Regions from separate parts of the Homo sapiens genome. Here region 1 is linked to region 2. Evidence: fine-mapped expression QTL. A gene starts in region 2. The other region holds a variant in brackets. All regions are shown on one strand. Distances are from middle to middle.

Region 1 (4,392 bases), 42 kb before region 2:
CCTTGTCAAATACCCACAGGGCTCGTGCCTGCTGAATAGCCCACTTGGCTGCCAGGAAGCCAGTCTCAGCCACATCAGCCCAATCCCAGATTGCTCCCTTCTTTGTTAACTGATACAATGGTTTTATCATTTGAGCTAAATGAGGCAGGAATGTCCACCAATATCCCAGGAGGCTCACAAAAGTTTGCAGCTGCCTCACCGTGGTGGGCCAGGGATATGCCTAAATTTTGTCAATGATAGCCTCTTGTATGGCCTTCATCTTACCCGACCAGATAACTCCCAAGAATTTAGCAGGTAATCCAGGCCCTCGGACCTTGGATTTGTTGATGGCCCAACTGCATGCTGCCAAATGTTGCCACAAGAGGGGTGCCACTGCTTCTAAATCTGCAAGAGAATCAGAGGTTAACATAATATCATCAACGTAATGGAACAAGTGGACTCCCTTTGGACATTTTCAGGCTGTTAAATCCATGGCAACAAGACCATGACATATGGTGGAGCTATGCACATAGCCCTGCAGCAACACTGTGAAAGTCCATTGTCATCAAGGCAAACTGTTCCTGGCTCTCTAGAGCAAGGTCAACTGAGAAGAATGCATTGGCCAAGTCCACCACATAGTGGTACTGTCCTAATTCCATTGTCGAGTGGTTCATCAAATCCATGATAGATGGCACAGCTTCCAAGCCATGTAAAATATCCACCTCCAGAATGTATTCAGGTATGGGAGAGACATACACAGTGTATAAGCAAGGAGCCAAGTGGCCAATGCCAAGGTACAGAGATACAGGTTTCACTTTCACTGACTGGCCTCCGTAACCTTTAATATATGCAGATTTGCCCAAAAACTTAACTGGGTTCCCATAAACAAGGCTACAATCTATGCCAGTATCTACCAGCACCAGCACCCACTGTACATTGGTGGGGGACCAGTGGATTGCCAATTCCACATGTGGCCTCTGGTCATCTGGTGTCCCCCCAAGCCAGACACCTTTGGCCAGTTCCCTAGTTGAACAGAAAAGGCTCTACATTTCCACCTGGCTGCAGCAAGTAGTCTCTGAGCTGGGTAGGACCAGGTCACACAGCAATGCCTTTCTCCCCTTTGGGCATTTTCCGGAATTGCTGCCCTGCATACAACTGTCTCCGCAAAGTTAGGAGTATTTCATTGGGCTGCTTATCAATTTTCTCTCAGTCAACCCCAGCCAAAATCAAATCTATCCACATCTGTGAGCGTGTCACTCGTTGGGGCCCCCTTTTTTTATGGGGGAGCCCCCTGTGGGTGGGGTAACTTCCCCTTCTTTATGGTGTGGACCCTCCAATCCCCCTGAAGGCCTTCTGCTTCCCTGAGAGCCGCCATGGCAGTGGTTACTTCATGTATGCGGTGCCCTACGTATGGGGTGAGGACAGCAGCTAGGGAGCCAAAGGGGCTCAGGAGCATCAAACCCAACATGAGATCCCTCATGTGGGAGGTGAAACATTTATCATCTGGCCCTCAGGTATTCAGGACAAACATAGCCTGCCGCATACCCATCTCCCGAATGACTTACACCAAATTGGCATATGACTGCCATTTACTCACAGTTTTGGGCATTTCACCAGCATTATTCCACACAGTTCATATGGCTGCCTGTAGCCACTCAGTCAGGGTGTGGTCTCCTTGCGCTGCCACTAACCACCTGCTCACTTGCAGCCGCTGACAGAGAGAGGGGTGAGTCATGGTGGAGGCCAGCTTGTCCATCTCAGAGGTGGAATGGGAGATACCATCTGCTCCCTTGTTCCACAGACGAAGCATCCAGGCAGGCAGGGGTTCCCCTGGACACTGGCAACACTGCTTGCCTAATTCCTGCAACTCAGTTGGGGTACAGGCAATATACGAAATGTGTTGCATTATGGTGGGGAGTCCCTGAGTCCACCCTTGGAGCCCCAGTGGCTGTTCATGATCTACCTTCTGTCAGACCACCGGGTGAGCCCGCAACAGGGGTTCTTCCTCCTTGGTATGAAACTGAGTGGGGATCTCCAGACAAGATGATGGACCCAGGCCTGCATTCATGGTAGCCTCTAATTCCTTTTCCAAGCTCTGAAGCCACACCTCCAGGCATCCTGCCTGCACCTGGAGGTCCCCATTCATGGCAGCCTCTAATTATTTTCCAGATCGGTGTAGCCAGACCTCCAGTCTGCATCCCTCAGGGACTGGG[T/C]GTGTACTTTTCTTAGCACAGTTAAAAATGCCCATCCAACTCTGCCAGCAAAGGCTCTCTCCTTCTTGGTGCTCTGCACTTCCAGCTGCTTCAGCGCCTTCTCCATGCTCATGGGGGACCCATCTACTGCCACCCAGGTTTCCACTCAGGCCCACCCTCACAGCACGGCTACCACCGGGTACCACAACCCATGTTGTGGTCACATGGCCAACCTGGAATCAGCAGGGACCGAAGGCTCACTTACCTTAGGATCCTGTTCGTGATGCCAATTGTCAGGTTCTAGCCCAAACTAAAGTCCAAGGGGAGTTGGTGGGTGGGTGGCAGGTAACTGGAAAAACACTCGAGTAGGCGGTTTCGACATGGCTTTATTCTCTCTCTGGGTGCAAGCCATATGTAGTGTCAGCAGGGTAATTTTACCTTTTACAGACAATAGTGGCTTTGAGCCAAGCACGTGCTCATATGAGTGGTCACCTAATGCACCTCACATGGCATGGTTACATAATGTGTGGAGTTGTGTGCCTGCCTCCAAACCCACTGAGTCATGCTGCACCAGAAGGCTGCCTCGGCCTACTCCTGACTAAAGCACAACCATCTCCCTTAGAGTGGGCTAAATCTACTGCTATTTATACTATTAGAAATTTTAACACAGAAGTTTTAAATATTTACATTGTTAATTGATTTTGAAATAATAAGCCCATTACAGGTTAACATAATTAACATACTTTTATTAAAAATATCTGTATTTTTTAAAAGAAAAAAAATTAGCAACAACAGTGATCCTTGGAATCGTCCCACCTCAGCCTCCCAAGTAGCTGAGACCACAGGCGCACATCACCATGCGAGCTAATTTCTATATTTTTTGGTAGAGATGGGATCTTGCCATGCTGGCCAGGGTGGTCTCGAGCTCCTAAGCTCAAGTGATCCTCCTGCCTCGGTCTCCCAAAGTGCTGAGATTACAGGTGTGAGCCACCACTTCTGGCCAGAAGCTGGATTCTCTGTCTTGTTCTCCATCCAATCTGTTAGACTGTCAAATGCCAAATAACCTTTGGAAAATTCTACTCGTAAAATAAGGAGAGAGATAAATAACTTCTGAGTATCATCATTAAAATAGTTTGACCTCATGGACCCACTGGGTCCCATGTGGAGAATAGCTCTAAGCTAAAGAGTAGAATGGCTGGGAGGGGACATAAACATTCAGCCCATAGCTGCTGACCACAATAACACATTTTAAGTCTCTTCCTCTCCTGCTCCTTGTGATTGCAGACAGACTCAATCTGTAGGAGAGCTGTAGAGAGAACAAGCTCAAGCCCCTGATTTTGCCTACAAAGAAAGCTGAGCCCAGCAAAGTTAAGGGACTTACCCAAGGTCACACAGCCACACAGCAGAGCTGGGGCTGAGCTCCAGGTGTCCTGCTACAGAGGCCACTTCTTTCTCCCACTAGGGACTGGCCTGTGATTACTTCAGAAAACAATGGTCAGCTAACTGATTCTGAACGCCCTTTGCTGGTAAAAGCTAATCTCCTGAGGAAAAATGTATGCATTGGCTGGGCGCAGTGGCTCAAGCCTATAATTCCAGCATTTTGGGAGGTGGAGACAGGTGGATCACTTGAGGTCAGGAGTTTAAGACCAGCCTGGCAGTCATGGTGAAACCCCGTCTCTACTAAAACTACAAATATTAAGCTCGGCATGGTGGCAGGCACCTGTAATCCCAGCTACTGGAGAGACTGAGGCAGGAGAATCGCTTGAACCCAGGAGGCGGAGGTTGCAGTGAGCCGAGGTCGCACCACTGCATTCCATCCTGGGCAACAGAGTGAGATTCTGTCTCAAAAAATAATAATAGTAAAATAAAAATAAATAAAAAAATAAGTATGCATCACCTCAGGTGGTCAGTCAGCTTTCCCAAGACCCCAAAGCACACAATGTTCTTTCTGGTATGAGTGACATGGGGTTCACAGCACCACAAAGTCCATGACTTTTCCCTCAGAAGTGAATGCATGGCTAATTATTTTGTATTTTTTGTAGACATGGAGTTTTGCCATGTTGCCCACGCTGCTCTCAAATTCCTGGACTCAAGTAATCCACCCACCTCAGCTTCCCAAGGTGCTGGGATTACAGGCATGAGACACCGCATGACCTGCACCTATAGTCCCAGCTATCAGGAGGCTGAGGTGGGAGGATCACCTGAACCGGGGAAGTTGAAC
Region 2 (4,392 bases):
TCCCTTCCAGGATTCCCAGTCCCCAGCCCCCCAAACACCAGGTGAAGTCTCCACGCTCTTACCTCCCAGCTCTGGAGCTGTGTGACCCACAAGCTCTTACCTCCCAGCTCTGGAGCTATGTGACCCCCTGAAGCAGGTCTAGGTCTGGCCCCTCCAAAATCTTCAACCCCACACTTGTATTCAGTGTCAGGCACTCAGATGCTGCCCACTGGACCTGGCTGGACACTGGCCAAAACACACATTCTGGGCAGACATGCAGTGCGCTGGCCTCCAAGGCAGGGGCCAGGACAGGAGTTACTCTCCCCACCTACCCACACAGCTCATGATAGGGCCCAAGCAGACTGCTCAGACTGATGGGAAACCTCATGAGTGCCTCCCAGCCCATGGCTCCAGGGCTAAGCAGACAGACTCCTCCACCCAATGCTCACACGGCTTAGATCCAGCTGGCCCCACTCACCCAACTTCTGTCAGCCTGGACACCCACGGGGAGCAGGGCAGGAATTCCACAGGGCAACTGCCACCCTTTCCTCAGGAAGGACAAGGGTTGCAATGGCACTTTGGGGTACAAGCCACCATCCCAATTGACTGCAGGATTCAAACTTCAGACCTCAGTAGGCGCCAAAACAACTAAAGATCCAAGTGAATATAAAACCCAGTGGTGCAACTCTGAGCCAGAATCCTGGACCACAGCCCATGACCACTTCCAGGAAGGCAAGGCTTCCTTCCTCTCCTGCCCCTCCCAGGTGGCCCTAACCCTGTGCAACAGGCCACTCGCCAGGGAGCTTGAGGGGAAGAGAACAGTCGGGTCCTGGCCAGTCCCAATCTGTCTTAGAGAAGAGAAGGATGACCAACACCCATGGGAAGGAATTTGGAGCAGGAGACCAGAAGGGCAGGGACAAGGATGGGTTTGGGCTCCCACTGCTGCTCTCTATCCACCGCCACCTCTTCCATCCAGGAAGCTCCCAGCCTTAGGTAGATGCCGTAAGACAAGTGGAGGCTGCACTGGGCTGGGGAGGTGTGACACCTGGGCTTTCACTGTGCCCCTCCCACTGCCTAGGTCCTGATGCCCATCACAGCCCTTTCTGCTGCGGCCTGGGACCTTCCCCTCCCGGTGCTGCAGGGAGCTCCGCACTCACGCATTTAGGTCACTAATGTGCAGCGCTGGGGAGTGCCCTCTGAGCACCCGAGAAATTACTTTGGTTATGGAACTGACAATTGTTTCCTTCCTTCTACTCCTTCCTTCTGTTTGGCTGACATTTCCCTCTCAAACCCTCTGACACAGGGTTCCATCAGGAGCACCGCACCCCTCCACAACCCTCTGCCACGGAAGGTGTGCGAATGCCCCATCTCCTCCTCACAACCCTGTGGACCCATGGTTAGGCCGTTTCTTTAAGTGAAGAAACTAAGTCTCATAAAGGCTCGGTCTTGCTGGGGTCTCACAGTCCTCGCAGGAGCTAGGATCTGGACTAGGGTCCTTGAGCTAGTCGCTCACCCTCTCTGAGCCTCACTTTCCTCCCAGGTAAAACGCATGTCACAATACAATGGGGACCAAATCCTTAGGCGGGACACAAAGGGACAGGGGCCTGGGAGGCCTTTTGAGAAGCTCTGAGCAGAGCTAGGCGTGCCCCGATCCGGCTTGAGGAGCCCAGCTCCTGTTCCTCCCCATGTGGGAAAGAGACTGGCCCCGCGTCCGGGCCGCCTCCCGGCTGTAGGCGCTGGGACCGCGGGGCGCAGAGACCCCGCGCCCAGCCAACCGGACACAGGGACCAAAGCGCCTAGCAGACAGGGCGCAGGAGACGCCCATCAGGCGGCTCGCGCCCCCAGGCACCTGCACTCACCGAGGGCCCCGAGGAACAGCAGGACGAGGAAGACAAGTTTCATGTCTGCGGTCTGGAGGCGACTTGGCAAACGAAGGCTCTGCCACTTGCGCCTGCCCTGCGCCCCTTTATTCAGGGCTTTGCCCCGCCCTGTTGCCCAATAGACACCCCTTCCCTCCCCACTCCCCGCGGCCAGGTCTACTTGTTCCTTGAGGATCCAGGCTCCGAAAAGCCCTGAGGCAGGACAGGACTCCACACCGCGCTGCGAGAGGAAAGCCAGCCTGCACCTCACCTGTCCTGGTTCTGCCTGGCTGCTGCGATGTTCTTTCTCTCCCACTAGTCTGCAAGCCCCTAGGAGTCGCAGCCCCCTGAGCCCTGTCCCAGCTCTGGTCTCAGTGCCTTCTAGAGGGCAGGACACAGAGCAGAGGGTCTTTACTTGAAGATCGCCTTGACCTGTGAGACTGCTATCTTCTTCAGCAGATGACCTTGAAGGTGCCTAGGAGCCAGTTAGGGCAGGTGGATTTGCTTTCACCTTGGCTCAGCAGTGAGCTGAGAGTTGAAAAGATGACCCGACCACCCCCAGCAGCAGCCTAGGGACAGCTGACAGAGAAAAGAGAGGCTGCCCAGAGTCTCAGGCAAGCTGCCCATGGGGTATCTCCCTGCCCTGCTGAGACCCACAATACAGCTCCCAGAAAACAGACAGGGACCTCAGAGGGGAATGGCCACCACCCAAGGCTGGTTCCATGTTCTTATTTGCCAATGAGAAAGATGCCCTATGGCTAAGATGCCCTACCACTTTTTTTTTTTTTTGTCTTTTTTTTCTCCATCTCCTCCTTCTTCTTTTTTGGTGTTGATAGTATTCAGTAGGAAATGGTAACCTCATTTTAACAATCGCCATAAATGTCAGATTTTAAAATTCAAAAGCTAGAATACTGCTTCTAAGAATACATCTCGTAAATACATTCCCATGACACACAGCACCCCAGGTACAAATGTTTCCAGGCACCACTGCATGCCATTAATCAGTTGGAAGCAAACTAAACATCCATCTCTAGGGGAGTGTCACATACAGCATGGTGCCTGTGGGACACATTGGGGGCCTCAGAAAGAATATCCTGTGTGTATGGATGTGAACTTAGCCCAAGAGTAACTAGGCAGGGCACAGTGGCTCATGCCTGTAATCCCAGCACTTTGGGAGGCCAAGATGGGAGGATCGCTTGAGCCCAGGAGTTCAAGACTAGCCTGGGCAACATAGGGAAACCCCCATCTCTACAAAAAATACAAAAATTAGCCCAGCATGGTGGTGTATGCCTATGGTCCCAGCTACTTGGGAGGCTAAAGTGGGAGGACCATTTGAGCCTGGGAGATGAAGGTGGCAGTGAGCCATGATCATGTCACTGCACTGCAGCCTGGGCAATAGAGTAAGACTCTGTAACCCCCACCAAAAAAAAAAAGGGTAACTAAGTGAAGAAAAAAGGTACTAACAGTGAGGGAAATAATAGGTCACCTGAACACCTTTCTTGGCAGGTGAGTCTGACCAATATGTGACTCTGAAATCTGCTTATTCTGAAAAGCTGGTCTTGACTCTGCTTAGACTACTTGGTACTAAAAAGCATTTCCTGGAGCAGATAGGCAATGCCCCAGGGAGCCAGCTCTGCCAAGAGTGAGCATGCAGTGGGCACCTAGCCATGGAGAAGCAGGCTCAGCCCAAGGTGGAGAGGCCATTAAGGAGGCTGGGGAGCCCCTCCATTTCTGGGCATGATCCTGCCAAGGCACAGGGTGGAGGCTAATCAGGGATCATGCTTGCCTGCCATGAGACTGGGGTCTGAGATTTGGTGCTAGAATCACCAGCTGGGTTTTGGGGTGACAGATCCAAGGTCTCTCATTGTTTGGAAACATGATATTGCACCATTTAAAGTTGCCATCATCAATAATTGCAATAAGTTCTTTCAAAAATACTGAAGAAATACAAAATTGACTAATTCCCAGGAGTGCTGAAGCATCTTTGTACCTAAATTGGCAACAAGACTTTGCCTTTTCATCATTATAAAAGAATTAAGAAACATCATAACCCGTGTCTCTTTTTCTGAGTCCAAATTTTAAAAAAGGATGACTGGGAGGTCAGAGGGCCCTGGGCCCTCTTAAGTATGTTACAGTGTTGGCAAGAACACAGAGAACCTGGGGCCACTACCAAGAGGCTCAGCTTAAGGAGTGCCCTGAAGGCAGCATGGGTAGGCAACAGGGCAGACTGTTTTCCTGCTGTGCCTGTTGGAACAGCCCAGCCCCAGGGCAGGGATGTGAGCATCTGGACACAGGCAGAGCAGCCCCTCAAGGCCATTTGCAGAGGAGGCTGATGTAGGGGATGAGTCTGCCCCAAAAAACAATGAAGTTTCACTGATCTATTAACAGCATTCATTCATTCATTCATTCATTCATTCATGCCAGAACTGGTAGATGCCATGAGAGACAGAGAAGAGGGGTCTGTCCTTGCCCTCAGGAGCTCACAGCACTATGGGGGAGGGACAGTCACAGGAATGCACTTCTATCACAGAGGCTCCCTAAGAAGAGGCCAAGC

Evidence for each region.
Region 1: its variant is fine-mapped to the expression of LTF in whole blood (TOPMed, PIP above 0.99).

What each region holds. Positions count from the first base shown.
Region 1 is chr3:46,421,109-46,425,500 of GRCh38, forward strand. LINC02009 (long intergenic non-protein coding RNA 2009) reads right to left here and starts at 2,559. Exons shown (of 5, transcript NR_151704.1): 1 at 2,437-2,559; 2 at 1,577-1,690; 3 at 265-384. The variant T/C (reference allele first, on the strand shown) is at 2,193.
Region 2 is chr3:46,462,987-46,467,378 of GRCh38, forward strand. LTF (lactotransferrin) reads right to left here and starts at 1,919. Exons shown (of 17, transcript NM_002343.6): 1 at 1,839-1,919. The coding sequence starts at 1,881.